2 separate regions of the Homo sapiens genome follow, and region 1 is linked to region 2. A link means that fine-mapping ties the variant in region 2 to the expression of a gene that starts in the linked region. Tissue or cell type: whole blood. Region 2 holds a variant in brackets; the other region holds the start of a gene. All regions are shown on one strand. Distances are from middle to middle.

Region 1 (5,304 bases), 120 kb after region 2:
AGTTTGAGAAACAGAAGATTCACCTTTTCTTTTATCCCTGCATCAGCTGAAAAAGCCCTGCATATTTCTCTTCAGAACATACCAACGATGCCTCACTAATGCAACTATTTTTTTTAAAAAAAACCACATATCTGAACAGTATAGTCAAAATCAACTATGAATTATCAGTTCTACTTTCCTATTTTTAGCACAACTTTAGTTTATCAGAAACCTAAAACATGACTTTTCTTTAAAACAAGAAAATTTTCAAAACTACAAACCTTCATATATTCAGCCCTTCACCAGAAGCCCAGAAAAAAATTCATAATTTTTGAACAACAAGCAAATCATGCTTATTTTCCTCAAAATACTACTTAGGTTTTAAGAACCTTCTGATGTGCATCTGCCAAATGTGGCTGATTTCAGTCTCAGACAGGGAAATCTAAAAGGCTACCACAGGGTTACTGTTTTTGGTAAGGGGAAGTCGATGCCAGGAGGAACTTCTCTATTGATTACAGCAATGACCACCATTTATTAAGCACTTCTTAGCTCTCCTGGTGCAGTGCTAGGAGTTTGGCAAACATCCTATTTGTCCTCAGAAATAATCTTGCAGAGCAAACACCACCATCCCCAAAACCAGATGTGTAAAATGAGGCTCAGGTGAAGAATAACTTGCCCAAGATCACTGAATTAAATGTGGCAGAATCAAGTCTAATGAATGGCAAGGGTGAGAACTGGTCAGTTTCACAGAGAATTAGGCCTTCATCATACAAATGCCGCCTGCACAAAAACTAAATGAGAAACAGTGAACCCTTGCTGTAGGGAGAAAAAGCAATATTCCGAACTAAAAAAGTAGTTTCAAACAGAAGATCTAATGATAAACACATTTGTAAAGTCTGAGCAGGGAGGAAAAGGATTACTCAAATTACTCAAGTACAGCCCTATGGGGCTCCTTCACTTCTGTGTTCTTAAAATCTAATCTGGTTTAAGAGCGCATGGGCTCCGAGTAAAACTCTCCCAAATTCCTCCAGGCTTAACCACCCTCTACTCAAAAGAACCAGGAGCAGGAGTTAGGACAATGGGAAGTGACCGCCCTGCCCTGCCCTGCCGGTCCTCCCTCCGGGTCAGCTGTCAGATCCGCATGGGTGCGACTATAAGCCGGCACCGGAGCCCCGGGACTGGCTCGGCCAGGGTCCCCGCCTTTTCACTCCCAGTCCCGGCCCTGTCGGCCACCTCGTTTACCACCTCCAGAGGCACAAATAATTATACCGGAAGAATTTGTTTTAACAAGTAGAATTCTATATTCACCAACTGGCTTCGCTATCGGATATTACGGTAGGGTTCCAACAAGAGAAGGGCAAAAGAATATAGTTTAATTGTTCTAAACAATCTTTCTGAGAAGTTGGGGTGGCTGAGGCGGCCACGGGGATACAGCTCAGGCACCTGTGAGCTAAGCCCACTCTACAAACTAACCACCCCTACGTTTTGGGCAGAAGAGCGCCGCCTCGCCAACCCAGGTTATAAATGTACATATTTTTAAAGATGAGCTTTGACGCTGTGACACTTGTGGGGAGTCTCCCGACGGCTCCTCTACTTGATGGGGGTACAGGGAGTTCTGCGGCTCCCCAGCCCCGAGTTTCAAATACCGTGGCCTGGAAATTAACCGGGTGACTCGGTTTATTGCCTCCAGAAGGGTCCGCCTGCCGTGCTGGAGTAGCCGCCAGTCCCGCGCCCGCAGCCCCGGCAGGGCCCCCCACGCCCACCTTCCCACGAGGGGTGTCTCGTAGAGTCCGGCTTCAGGCGCTCCCTGGCCTGGCAGCACCCACCCCACCCCGCCCCACCCCACCCCCACGACTCGGGCTAGCAGCCTGGTTAATCATTCAACGCAAACAGTGTGGAATATTTTTTTTAAAAGGTCAAAGCGAAAGGTTTTCCCTAAGTTTGGCAGAAACCAGTTTTGGGGGAGCCGGAGACAGAAGTGGCAGAGGTTGGGGGTGGGGGGTGGGGAGCGGCTGCCGGCGGCTCTTTGGCTCACAAAACACCTGATCTCCCCATGCGGCACGGGAGGCCGGCGCAGTGCGAGGGTGGGGTGCGGGGGTGCGAGCGAGGAATCACGCGCGCCCCCCTCCCCGAAATGCCCGCGCGCCCCGGATGAGGAGGCCCGGCCCCAGATGCCCCTTGCCAAAGCCCGCATCGCCCCGGCGCCGGATCCCCCGGAAGTTGGGGTGCAGCGAGGAGGGGGAAGGTCCCCGGGCTCCAGGGCGAGGTGGGCACGGAATGGGTTGGGAGGTTCCAAAGCCCCGCAGCGGGCGGTGTCCCTCTCCTCTCCCTCTGGGCTGAGGTTGGGTGGCTGGGACGGCGGGAAGGTAAGGGAGGCTTAAATGCGGCAGGAGCCACCTAGGGACGGCTTCCTCCACCGGGGCGCGGGTACGAAGCCGGAACCGGCGAGGAACCGGGCGGGGGTAGCAGGGTGTCCGGAAGGTGGGGCCGGGAAGCAGGGAGGCGGAAGGGGACTGGTAGAGGGGCCTGGCGGTGAGAGGGCAGCGGGGAGGGAGCCGGCGGGGGTGCTCGGCGCCCGGGCCCTACCTTGTCCGGGAGCAGCTCCAGCTCGGCGGGGCGGGGGCAAGGGCGGGAGATCGCGGCCACATCCACGTCCCGGCCGCTCCGCGCGGCTCAGCCCGGCGACCGCCGCAGCTCACGCTCCATGCGCGGCGCCCCGGACGGGCGGCCCGGCGGTGTCGGCGGCAGGGACTGCTCCGGCTTGGCTCTGCTAGCCTCCGGCACTTGTTGCCGCTGCTGCCGCTGCCGCTGCGCCTCACTCCAGGCTCCGGTTCCAGGCGCAGCAGCCGCCGCGGGCGCCCGGCCCCGCCCCTCCCCTGCCCGCCCGCCAATGGGGCCCGGCCCCGCCCCTCACGTCACCGCCCGACGGCCCCGCCCCGCGCCCCAAGTTTTGGGAGGGTTCCGCTCTCCCCACCCGGTACCAGGACCCACCCGGGCCCGCGCTCCCTGCGGCTTCCAGGGACCCTCCAGCCCCCACGCACCCTCCTGCAAAGCCGAGGGTTAAGCTGGGGAAAGGGGGCCTCTAGGAAGGCGACCCCCCTGGAAATGCCTGGCAGCTCCAAAAACACTAATGAAACTCAGCTCCAGCCTCCGCCCCTCCAGTTGTGGGTGGCCCCTCTTGCGGTTCGTCTGAGGCTAGGGGACTAGGCGCATCGCCTAGCGAGACTCCAGTGGCCTTTTCTGTCCAGTTTGTAACCGGAACTAGACCGACCCCGGCCGCCCCCTCCAGTGCTGGGGCGGGTGAGGAATGGCCCCGCCGGGGAGGCGGGGGAGGGAGGCCTGGGCCACCCTGGGGTCTGACCTTTGCTCCACCTCTTAGGTGCTCACGACCCAGAGTGGTGCCCTGCTTGGTACTGCCACTGGATCCTCTGGCTTATGAAGCCGTCCAGGACAGGAAGGGTGGGGGGTGGTCCTTAGTTCTCTTCGTGGGGTCATGCAGAGTGGTTTCCTCGAGGTCCCACGCCCGTCTCAGGAAGCCAGAAACGCAAGATGCCGGGCGCTCGGCCCGAACCCGTGCCGCGGCCCAAGGGGCAAGGCGGATACCGAGGCAAGGCCTAAAGGGCCGGACTCTGACCGCACCCTCCGGACACTGCAGGGCTCCGCCGGCCAGAGGCGGCCTTGGCGCCAACCACACCTAGCAGCGGGGTCCCCGGGCCCACCGATGCGCCCTCCTAGCCCCGCGCTCCTTCGAGGGGTTCCAAGGTGACTCAGAGACGCAGCTGACACAATTCTGAGGCCCCCAGGTAAGCCTGGCGATACCGGATGGAGAAGTTACCTGGTCTTGAAAGGCCCAGTCCAGCCAGCGAGACCCGCGTGCGCTCCGCGGGGAGGCAAGCCTAACCAGGGGCTCACCTGGAAGCGTCCCCGCCCCCTGGTCCTTATCTCTGAATCGAAACCGAACCTGGACCCATCTAGATAATTGGACTGAGCAATTAAGGACGCTTCGCTCCTAACTGTTAGCATTTTTTCCTAAGGCTCTCGGAGGCGGAATCAGCTGGAAAGGAACATTGCTAAGTAGGAATTTCAGGCACCTGTGAACTGAGCCCACTCAATAATCGGCCCTTTCCCTTAACCAAACTCAGCAAAGGAAGAAAGACCAAGTTGCTGCGGATGCACAGAGCCACGTGGGTGCGGGTCCTCTAGAAACAGGAATTCAGAGTCAGTAGATATGGAAATGTTATGGTTTGCAGTCTTCGGACCATGCTGCTTTCATGCTGTTCACATGATTCTCCTCGGACTGCGAGGTAAAGTCCAAGAAACAAGTCGAATGTTTGTATTTTCATAGAAAAAACATCTGTAAGGGTGCACACCGACTGTTAACCACGGTTACGCGGGGAGGGGAAACAAGGGAGTTACATTTTTTTACTCCCTTGACTTTGGATTTTGTATTTTTCCAGTTGTATTTACTTTCATAATTTAGAAAGCTAATAAAACATGTTTAAAGAAACAGAAGCTAGAAATTCTCTAAGAACTCTAGGAAGTAGAGGCCGGGCGCGGTGGCTCACGCCTGTAATCCCAGCACTTTGGGAGGCCGAGGCGGGTGGATCACAAGGTCAGGAGTTCGAGACCTGTCTGGCCAACATGGTGAAACCCTGTTTCTACTAAAAATACAAAAATTAATGGTGACATGTACCTGTAATCCCAGCCACTTGGGAGGCTGAGGCAGGACAATCGCCGAACTCAGGGAGGCGGAGGTTGCAGTAAGCCGAAATCGTGCCACTGTACTCCAGCCTGGGTGACAGAGTGAGACTCTGTCTCAAAAAAAAAAAAAGAACTCTAGGGAGTATAAATTAATAAATGAAGTCTATGTCTTCATTCTGTATCAAAATAATATTGAGTCCATGTTCCTGGGTTTAAATAAAGATATCTCTAGGCTGCTGTCTGATATTTAAATGCAGTGTTGAGACAAAGCGGACATCTAAGGAAGATTTTCTGTGCCATCAGATTGGTATATTGTTTCCATGCATATGTGTCTTCCCTTTAAATGCACTCCCTGTAGCCACAGACATGCTTGCAAGAACGGCCAGCCAAGGAGTTTATAGTAAAGGAGCTGCTACAATGTCAGCTGGCAACCAACTAGGAAATTAAGCTTGTGTCCCTCGCTGCCCAAGGCTGCCCAGGCCATGAAATTTAAAAATAAGGGTATTCTTAGGCCAGGCACGGTGGCTCATGCCTGTAATCCCAGTACCTTGGGAGGCCAAGGTGGGCGGATCACTTGAGGTCAGGAGTTCAAGACCACCCTGGCCAACATGGTAAAACCCCGTC
Region 2 (7,611 bases):
TCCCATCCCCATGGCAACCAAACTCTGTCCTGGAATCTGTGCTGGGTCTTGGGTGTAAAAGAGCCCCTCCGGCCAGTCATAGTGGTTTATGCCTATAATTCCAGCACTTTGGGAGGCTGAGGTGTGAGGATTGCTTGAGGCCAGGAGTTCAAGACCAGCCTGAGCAACATAGCAAGAGTCCCTCCTCCAGACTCACACGTCTCCACTGTATATTGGTGCAGAATCCTAGGCCCAGAAGGTTTTCCTACCCCTGTTTTCCCAGGAGAAGTCAGCTTTTGCTTTGACTCTTATCCCAGAAGCAGTGGATCTTTGCCCTTGCCAGTGTAGAATGAGAGTTTCCTACTGTTTCCCAAAGGCAGCCAGACTCTGCTTCTACACCTGTGGCTCTGGGGTGGAAACTGTTTGCTGCCATTCTTCTAGCTGCTTGATGCTTTTACTTGATGAAAGAGGAGTCTTTGGAAGTGAGTCCCCACCCACTTCTTGGCTACACCCTGGCGTAGGGTTGCCTGCATCATCTTGAATGCCTGCACCATCAAGCATGGGGCTCTTGCCCTATCCCCATTTTTTCTCATGAGCACCTAGTGGAGGCCCATGGAAAAGGGCTTGTAGTGACAAACTCCCCTTCTCTCTGGGGCTCCCAGTCATTCTAAACTGATACGCGCCGGGTGCAGTGTCTCACGCCTGTAATCCCAGCACCTTGGGAGGCTGAGGCAGGCAGATCACTTGAGGTCAGGAGTCTTGAGACCAGCCTGGCCAACATGGTGAAACCCTGTTTCTACTAAAAATACAAAAATTAGCCAGGCATGGTGGTGCAGGCCTGTAATCCCAGCTACTTGGGAGGCTGAGGCATGAGAATGACTAGAACCTGGGAGGAGGAGGTTGCAGTGAGCCAAGATTGCACCACTGCATTCCAGCCTGGGTGACAGAGCAAGACTCTGTCTCAAAAATAAATTAATAAATAAACTGAATGCTAATCCATACTTAGTCTTCGGGAATCCAAGACATTTGAGTTCCTTCCTTTTTACCAACACCGGTGGTGGCCACTTCCTTCTGTTCTCTGCCAAAGACAGGACCCCCCTCATGGTATCCAAGCTGTGCAGTCACACAGTGCCCTGTGCTCAGAAGTTCCCCATATTTTTCACTGGGTCCTATAAATCTGTAAATGATGTAGCCAGTCCTGGGCAAAGGTAAAATAGCCCCTGTTCCCTATTTCTTCTCACGGGGGATAGTTACTCTTTGGAATTCAGTTCATTTCATTGCCTTGCGACCTCAGCTCTCTGACGAGTTCAAGAAAAGGTATGATTTGTAGATTATACGTCTTTTTCTCACCGTTTGGATGGGAGTTCTGTTCTTTTTTTTTTTTTTTTTTTTTTTTTGAGGTGGAGTCTTGCTCTGTCACCCAGGCTGGAGTGCAGTGGCACGATCTCAGCTCACTGCAAGCTCCGCCTCCCGGGTTCATGCCATTCTCCTGCCTCAGCCTCCCAAGTAGCTTGGACTACAGGCGCCCGCCACCATGCCCAGCTAATTTTTTATATTTTTAGTAGAGACGGGGTTTCACCGTGTTAGCCGGGATGGTCTCGATCTCCTGACCTTGTGATCCACCTGCCTCGGCCTCCCAAAGTGCTGGGATTACAGGCGTGAGCCACTGCACCCGGCCTGAGGAGTTCTGTTCTTTATTCATCTGCATCCTAAGCAAAAACAGCCTCTTTCTGTTAGAAATTATTTGAGGCCTCAAAGGGAGGTAACAGTGCTATGTTGTCTGCAGATTCCCTGCCAGGGATAAGTTGGTGATGGACAAGTGATTATCCCTGGGTGGTGTGACTCTTTTTTCTACTTTTTATTTGATTATATTATCCCAAATTACTTTTACAATGAGCAATCCCTGCTTGATTAAAAACAACTAGAGCATCAAACTTTGAAGCATCCCTTTTAAACTTTTTTTTGTTTTGTTTTGTTTTGTTTTTTAGTGACAGTGAAATGATCCCTCAGAGTTCCTTCCCTAGACTCACTGGAGAAAACAGCATATCCAGGGGCACAAAGTGATATTATACAGAAGGCACAGACAACAAATTAACAGAACTCTGCTGCTCTAGGACATAGCTCCTTCAATTCCTGGCCTTTGGATCAGGTGACAGAAGGGCCACTCTCTAAATATCTCCTTCCAGTACCATCATTTCTGCACTGGCTAGTAAGGACCAAATGTGGCCCCTGTTCCTTTCCTCCCATTCTGCTTTTGGGTAGTGGCTGCTTCCTGCTGAGACAGCATGTTTTTGGGCACTCCCTCTGGGAACATGGCATAAGAGGGAGTCAGAAGCCTTCCTCTCATCTCTGCCTCCAAGTCTATCACCTTAGACAAGTCGCTGATCCTCTCCAAGCCTCAGTTTTTTTTTTCATCTAAAAAATAAAGGTAAGCACGATAACCACCCCCACTGGGTTTTTTTTAAGGAGGACCAAATGTGATGATGTTTTAAAAAAGTATTTTACAAGCTGTAAAGAACCCTCATTATTCATCTTGGTAAGCAACTTATACCTGGGAGTAGAATGGGGTAGGGGACAGATGGAAATGGGTCCTCACGTTCACTTTCAGAGCTCATATTTTGGAGCAAAACTTGGAGATAATAGTATCTGACTCTTCTCTTGTCTTTTAACCACCACTCCCCTACACCCTGGTGAAACCTCAGTGTGTGGGTGTGGTTGCAGGGGCAGGCTATCTCTGTGGTCACAATACTCAGGGGGCCTCCTTCCTTCCTGCTACCTTCTCCCTGGCTGAGTGGGCATGTGTGTTGGGGAGAGCTTCTACTACCATCAAATAGAACCTATTAAGTACCTGGCAAGTGTTTCTCTGCTAGCTGGACACTAATCCTTTTCTGCAAGGGAGGGACCCCTTAATAGCCATCACTAGGACATCTTCTCTGCCCTTGCCAACGCAGCTGCTGCTTCATGATCTCCCTGGAACAGGAGGGAACTTCCCCCCCAAACAGAAGGTGTGCCCCATTACAAGGCCACAGAAATAAACTCCCTCTGCAGCTTCTCAACTAAATGGGGACTCCCAGATGGTAAGGCCCAAGTTCCAGGAGAAGCACAGCCAGGTTATCCCATGACAGGGAGCTGTCCACTACTGGCTGGTGGGCGATAGGGCACATCTGAAAAGGTGATTCTCTTTGACTAACTGCTCTTCATGGCATACAGCCTAGCAACTTGACCATTGATATTTCCTTTTTTCCTAGCATGGCTTTCTTTTATTTTATTAATTTATTTCAAAATTATATGTATCTGAACACCTGTGAACACATCTGTCAACCCAAGATCTAATTTTTTTTTTTTTGAGACAGGGTTTCACTGGTACCAAGGGGAGTGGCACAATCACGGCTCACTGCAACCTTGACCTCTTCAGGTTCAGGTGATCCTCCCACCTCAAGTAGCTATAGCTGGGACTATAGGTGCACCTGTAACAGGTGCACCAAGCTCAACTAATTTTTTAAATTTTTATTATTTTTGTAGAGACGAGGTCTCCCTGTGTTGCCCAGGCTGGTCTCAAACTCCTGGGCTCAAGTGATCTACCAGCCTTGGCCTCCCAAATGCTGGGATTACAGGCATGAGCCACTGCACCTGGCCTAAAATATCAACAATAACTTACATTTACCTGTGTGCTTCCCTTTACCCCTTTACTTCCATTTTGTCCTAATAATTTTCTTCCTTTAAAAAATAGTTAAATTAGTGTTATCCTTAATTAATGTTTAATTAATGTTAAATTATATTTGATTAACGTAATGCTTAATAAATGTTTAGTTTTAGTTGTTTTTAAACTTGTTAGAGGGCCAGCCACAGAGGCTCACACCTATAATCCCAGCACTTTTGGGGGCCAAGGTGGGAGGATCGCTTGAGCCCAGGAGTTAGAGACTAGCCTGGGCAACATGGCAAGAACCCATCTTTACAAAAAAATACAAAAATTAGCTGGGCATGGTGGCATGTGCCTGCTGTCCCAGCTGCTCAGAAGGCTGAGGCGGGAGGATCACTTGAGCCTGGGAAGTGGAGGTTGCAGTGAGCCGAGGTTGTACCACTTCACTCCAGCCTGGGTGACAGAGTTAGACCCTGTCTCAAAAAATAAATAAATGAAGAACACTTGATAGAAAGGTATTATGTTATAGGTAGTCTATATATAATTATATTGTAAGAACAGTGTAGCATGTAGTTATAGTTCATTGCTTTAATTGTGTAATATTCTACAGTGTGAATATTTCAATTTGCTTATTCATTTACCTGTCAGTGGACATTTGGGATGTTTCTGGTTTGATTTTGTTTGTTTTTGCTGATATCTACAGAGCTCCTAAGGGTATTCTAATAGATATATCTTGATGCACACATTGGGTCATAGAGAATGTGAATATTCAATTTTATAATATAGTTAATATAGTCAATAATAGTCAATAATAATAATAAAATGTATCAATCTGTTCTCTTTTTGGTTGGTACTTTTTTGTACCTAATTTAAGAATTCTTCCCCTCTTTTTAAATATTTTTTAGCGACAGGTCTTGTTCTCTTACTCAGGCTTCAGTGCAGTGGCTCAATC[G/A]TAGCTCACTGCAGCCTGGAACTCCTGGGCTCAAGCAATCCTCCTACCTCAGTCTCCTGAGTAGCTGGGACTACAGGCACATGCCACCACACCCAGACAATTTAAAACATTTTTTTATAGAGACAGGGTCTGCTTTGTTGCCCAGACTAGTCTCAAAATCCTGGCCTCAAGTGATCCCTCTACCTTGGCCTCCAAGAATGTTAGAATTACAGGTGTGAGCCACCGTGCCTGGCCTCTTCCCTTCTTTAGTCCAAGAAAGACAGTCCTCTATCTTTTCTACCAAGATAAACAATGAAGACATGCTTTGACATTGCCCAGTTTCATTTTTCTCCATATGGATGTTTTCCTAGCTTCAGTTATTGAATAGTTCCTCTTTTATCTCCTAATATGATATAGCGATTGATATTTTAACCATAACTTCACATTGATTCTTCATAGAAGAAAAAATTTCACTCATAATCTTAATAAAACATTATGTTGACATATACCTTTAAAACATATCAATTAATTACTTTTTTTTTTTTTTTTGAGACGGAGTCTCGCTCTGTCTCCCAGTCTGGAGTGCAGTGGTGCGGTCTCCGCTCACTGCAAGCTCCGCCTCTCGGGTTCACGCCATTGTGCTGCCTCAGCCTCCCAAGTAGCTGGGACTACAGACGCCCGCCACCACGCCCGGCTAATTTTTTTTTTTTTTTTAAGTAGAGACGGGGTTTCACCGTATTAGCCAGGATGGTCTCGATCTCCTGACCTCGTGATCCACCCGCCTCGGCCTCCCAAAGTTCTGGGATTACAGGCGTGAGCCACCGCGCCCGGCCTTTTTTTTTTTTTTTTTTAAACTGAAAAGTGATCACTTCTGTAGAATATATTTCCTACTGGCTATGCCCTCCTTGGCTTCACCCATGGCATTGGGCAAGTACCTGGTTGGCCCATTGCACTTCAGTGCAGAGCCTGGAGCCAGAAGGGAGGCCCTGCCATTGGTCAGCAGGGCAGCTCGCCTCACAGCTTCATTTGGACAAGAGTCGCAGACAAGCTCAAGGGTCTAGGGGAACCAGGTTTGGAGATGTTAGACTGGGAATGGGCTAGCTCAGAATCAATCTGAATGATATGACATTGTTACAGGCTGGGTTGAATTATGTTCCCCCAAAGGATATATGCTGGCCCCCAAACCTGTGAATGTGGCCTTATTTGGGAATAGTCTTTGCAGATGCAATCAAGTTAGGATAAAGTCATACTCAACTAGAGTGGTCCCTAATCCAATGACTGGTGTCCCTATAAGAAGAGGAAAGTTTGGACACAAATACACAGGGAAAAGACCTCATAAAGATGGAGGTAGAAATGAATATGATGGGTCTACAAGGCAAGAAACGCCAAGGAATGCCAGGAACGATAAGAAGCTAGAAGAGGCAAGGAAGTGTTAAAGCAAACTATATATGTCCTGAGAAGGACTCTGTACTTCTATATTTGAGTCCTTGTGGATGAACTGTAACCTAGCTTAATAGTCAGACAAAATTGAAAACCTAATTTAGGAGTATGCGCCTGTAACAATAACTAAGTCTTGGCCAATCCCAGAGGCTATACTTCAACCATTCATACTCTGCTGAGTGTTCAAACTACGTTCAAATAAGGCAAACACTGAGCTGTAACCAATCCGGTCATTCTGTACCTCACTTCCAATTTCTGTACATCATTTCCCTTTGTCTATAAATCTTCTTCCACCATGTAGCTGCGCCGGAGTCTCTGTGAATACGCTTGATTTGGGGGCTGTCCGATTCACAAATTGTTCATTTAATTAAACTCAATTAAACTCTTAAATGTAATTCAGCTGAAGTTTTTCTTTTTTCAGAAGGCCCCTCTCCTAGAGACTCTAGAGAGAGCATGGCCCTGCCACCACCTTGATTTCTGACTTCTAACCTCCAGAATTGTAAGAGAATAGATTTCTGTCATTTTAAGCCACAGTTTGTGGTACTAACACAGACACCTTCTCCTCTGCCAAAAATAATAATTCATGTGATGGGATAAAAATGACTGGCGAGTTCCCAACCTTTCCCACCCCCATGGCCCCTAATGAGGGTCCTGGTTACACTCTCCTCAGTTCCTCCTGGAGCCCACCCTCCAAGGAAGGAGCCCCGCCCTGCCAGCCATTTGTGAGATAAAAATCAGAGGAAACGGAAACTGAGAGCCAGACCGGGAGCCCCTGCAGCAAGTGAGAGCCATGTGTGGGAGAAGACGGAGGGGGACGTGCAAGAAGAACTGTGCCTCTCACATGGCCACCGTGAGAATCGAGTGCAGTCTAACGAAGGACTACGTTCACTTATCGGTGTGAGAAACACACGTGAAAGACTTGAGTTATTTTGAAATCACGTTTTGTTTCATGGTCTTTTGACCGCATCGCAGCTCCAGCACAGAGCTGAGCCACGTGGACCGAGGCTCTGTGAGCTTTCCTCTCCTCCCCATCACTGAATGCTTTCTGCCCTCCAGGCCCCTGCTAAGTGCTTGGCAGACTCCTCTCCTGTCCTCACAGCAACTCTAGAAGGACAGTGCTGTTTTAGATGACAAAACTGAAGCCTCACAGCAAACCTCAGTGAAATAGCCAAGGTCTAAAAGCTCAGATTACCTCATGCCTAGCTCAGAACTATTAGAATAATAATTGAAGCAGCAAGGAGCCTTGAGGCGACACCTAGAAGCTGGCAACCAACCCTACTACTGGTCTATGCTCTTGGGACAGCCTTGCCTCCTGGGATAATGGCAGCTCTGTTACCCTCCAGGAGATAGAGAATGGTGTGTTTCTGGCATTGAGGCCTAGCCAGGCCAGGGTGGGCAGAGGTGGCTGCTATACAATGGGCTCTGGAGCCAGACCGACAGGGTTCCCCCCAGCTCTGCCACTCTCTAGCTATATGGGCATGTTATCTGACCTCCCTGGGCCTCTGTTTCCTCATCTGCAAAATGGGGATAATAATAGTTGCCACCTCAGAGGGCAGTTGTGAGGATTAAGTGAATTAATACAGTATGTGACATGCTTAGAACAGCACTGGACACAGTAAGC

Evidence for each region. PIP is the estimated chance that this variant, and not a neighbour inherited with it, causes the effect.
Region 1: it holds the start of B3GNT2, and the variant in region 2 is fine-mapped to the expression of B3GNT2 in whole blood (INTERVAL, PIP 0.97).

What each region holds. Positions count from the first base shown.
Region 1 is chr2:62,193,617-62,198,920 of GRCh38, reverse strand. It overlaps B3GNT2 (UDP-GlcNAc:betaGal beta-1,3-N-acetylglucosaminyltransferase 2), which reads right to left and starts at 2,806. Exons shown (of 2, transcript NM_006577.6): 1 at 2,566-2,806. LOC124906013 (a long non-coding RNA gene) reads left to right here and starts at 2,908. Exons shown (of 2, transcript XR_007086336.1): 1 at 2,908-3,782; 2 at 4,014-4,932. RefSeq lists enhancers at 1,411-1,520, 2,501-3,107, 3,714-4,321 and silencers at 1,931-2,280, 2,461-2,900, 3,191-3,420.
Region 2 is chr2:62,309,142-62,316,752 of GRCh38, reverse strand. No RefSeq gene overlaps it. Among named protein-coding and RNA genes, the nearest start is that of MIR5192, 110 kb to the right of the region's middle. RefSeq lists enhancers at 2,840-2,939, 3,000-3,049, 6,486-6,855. The variant G/A (reference allele first, on the strand shown) is at 4,572.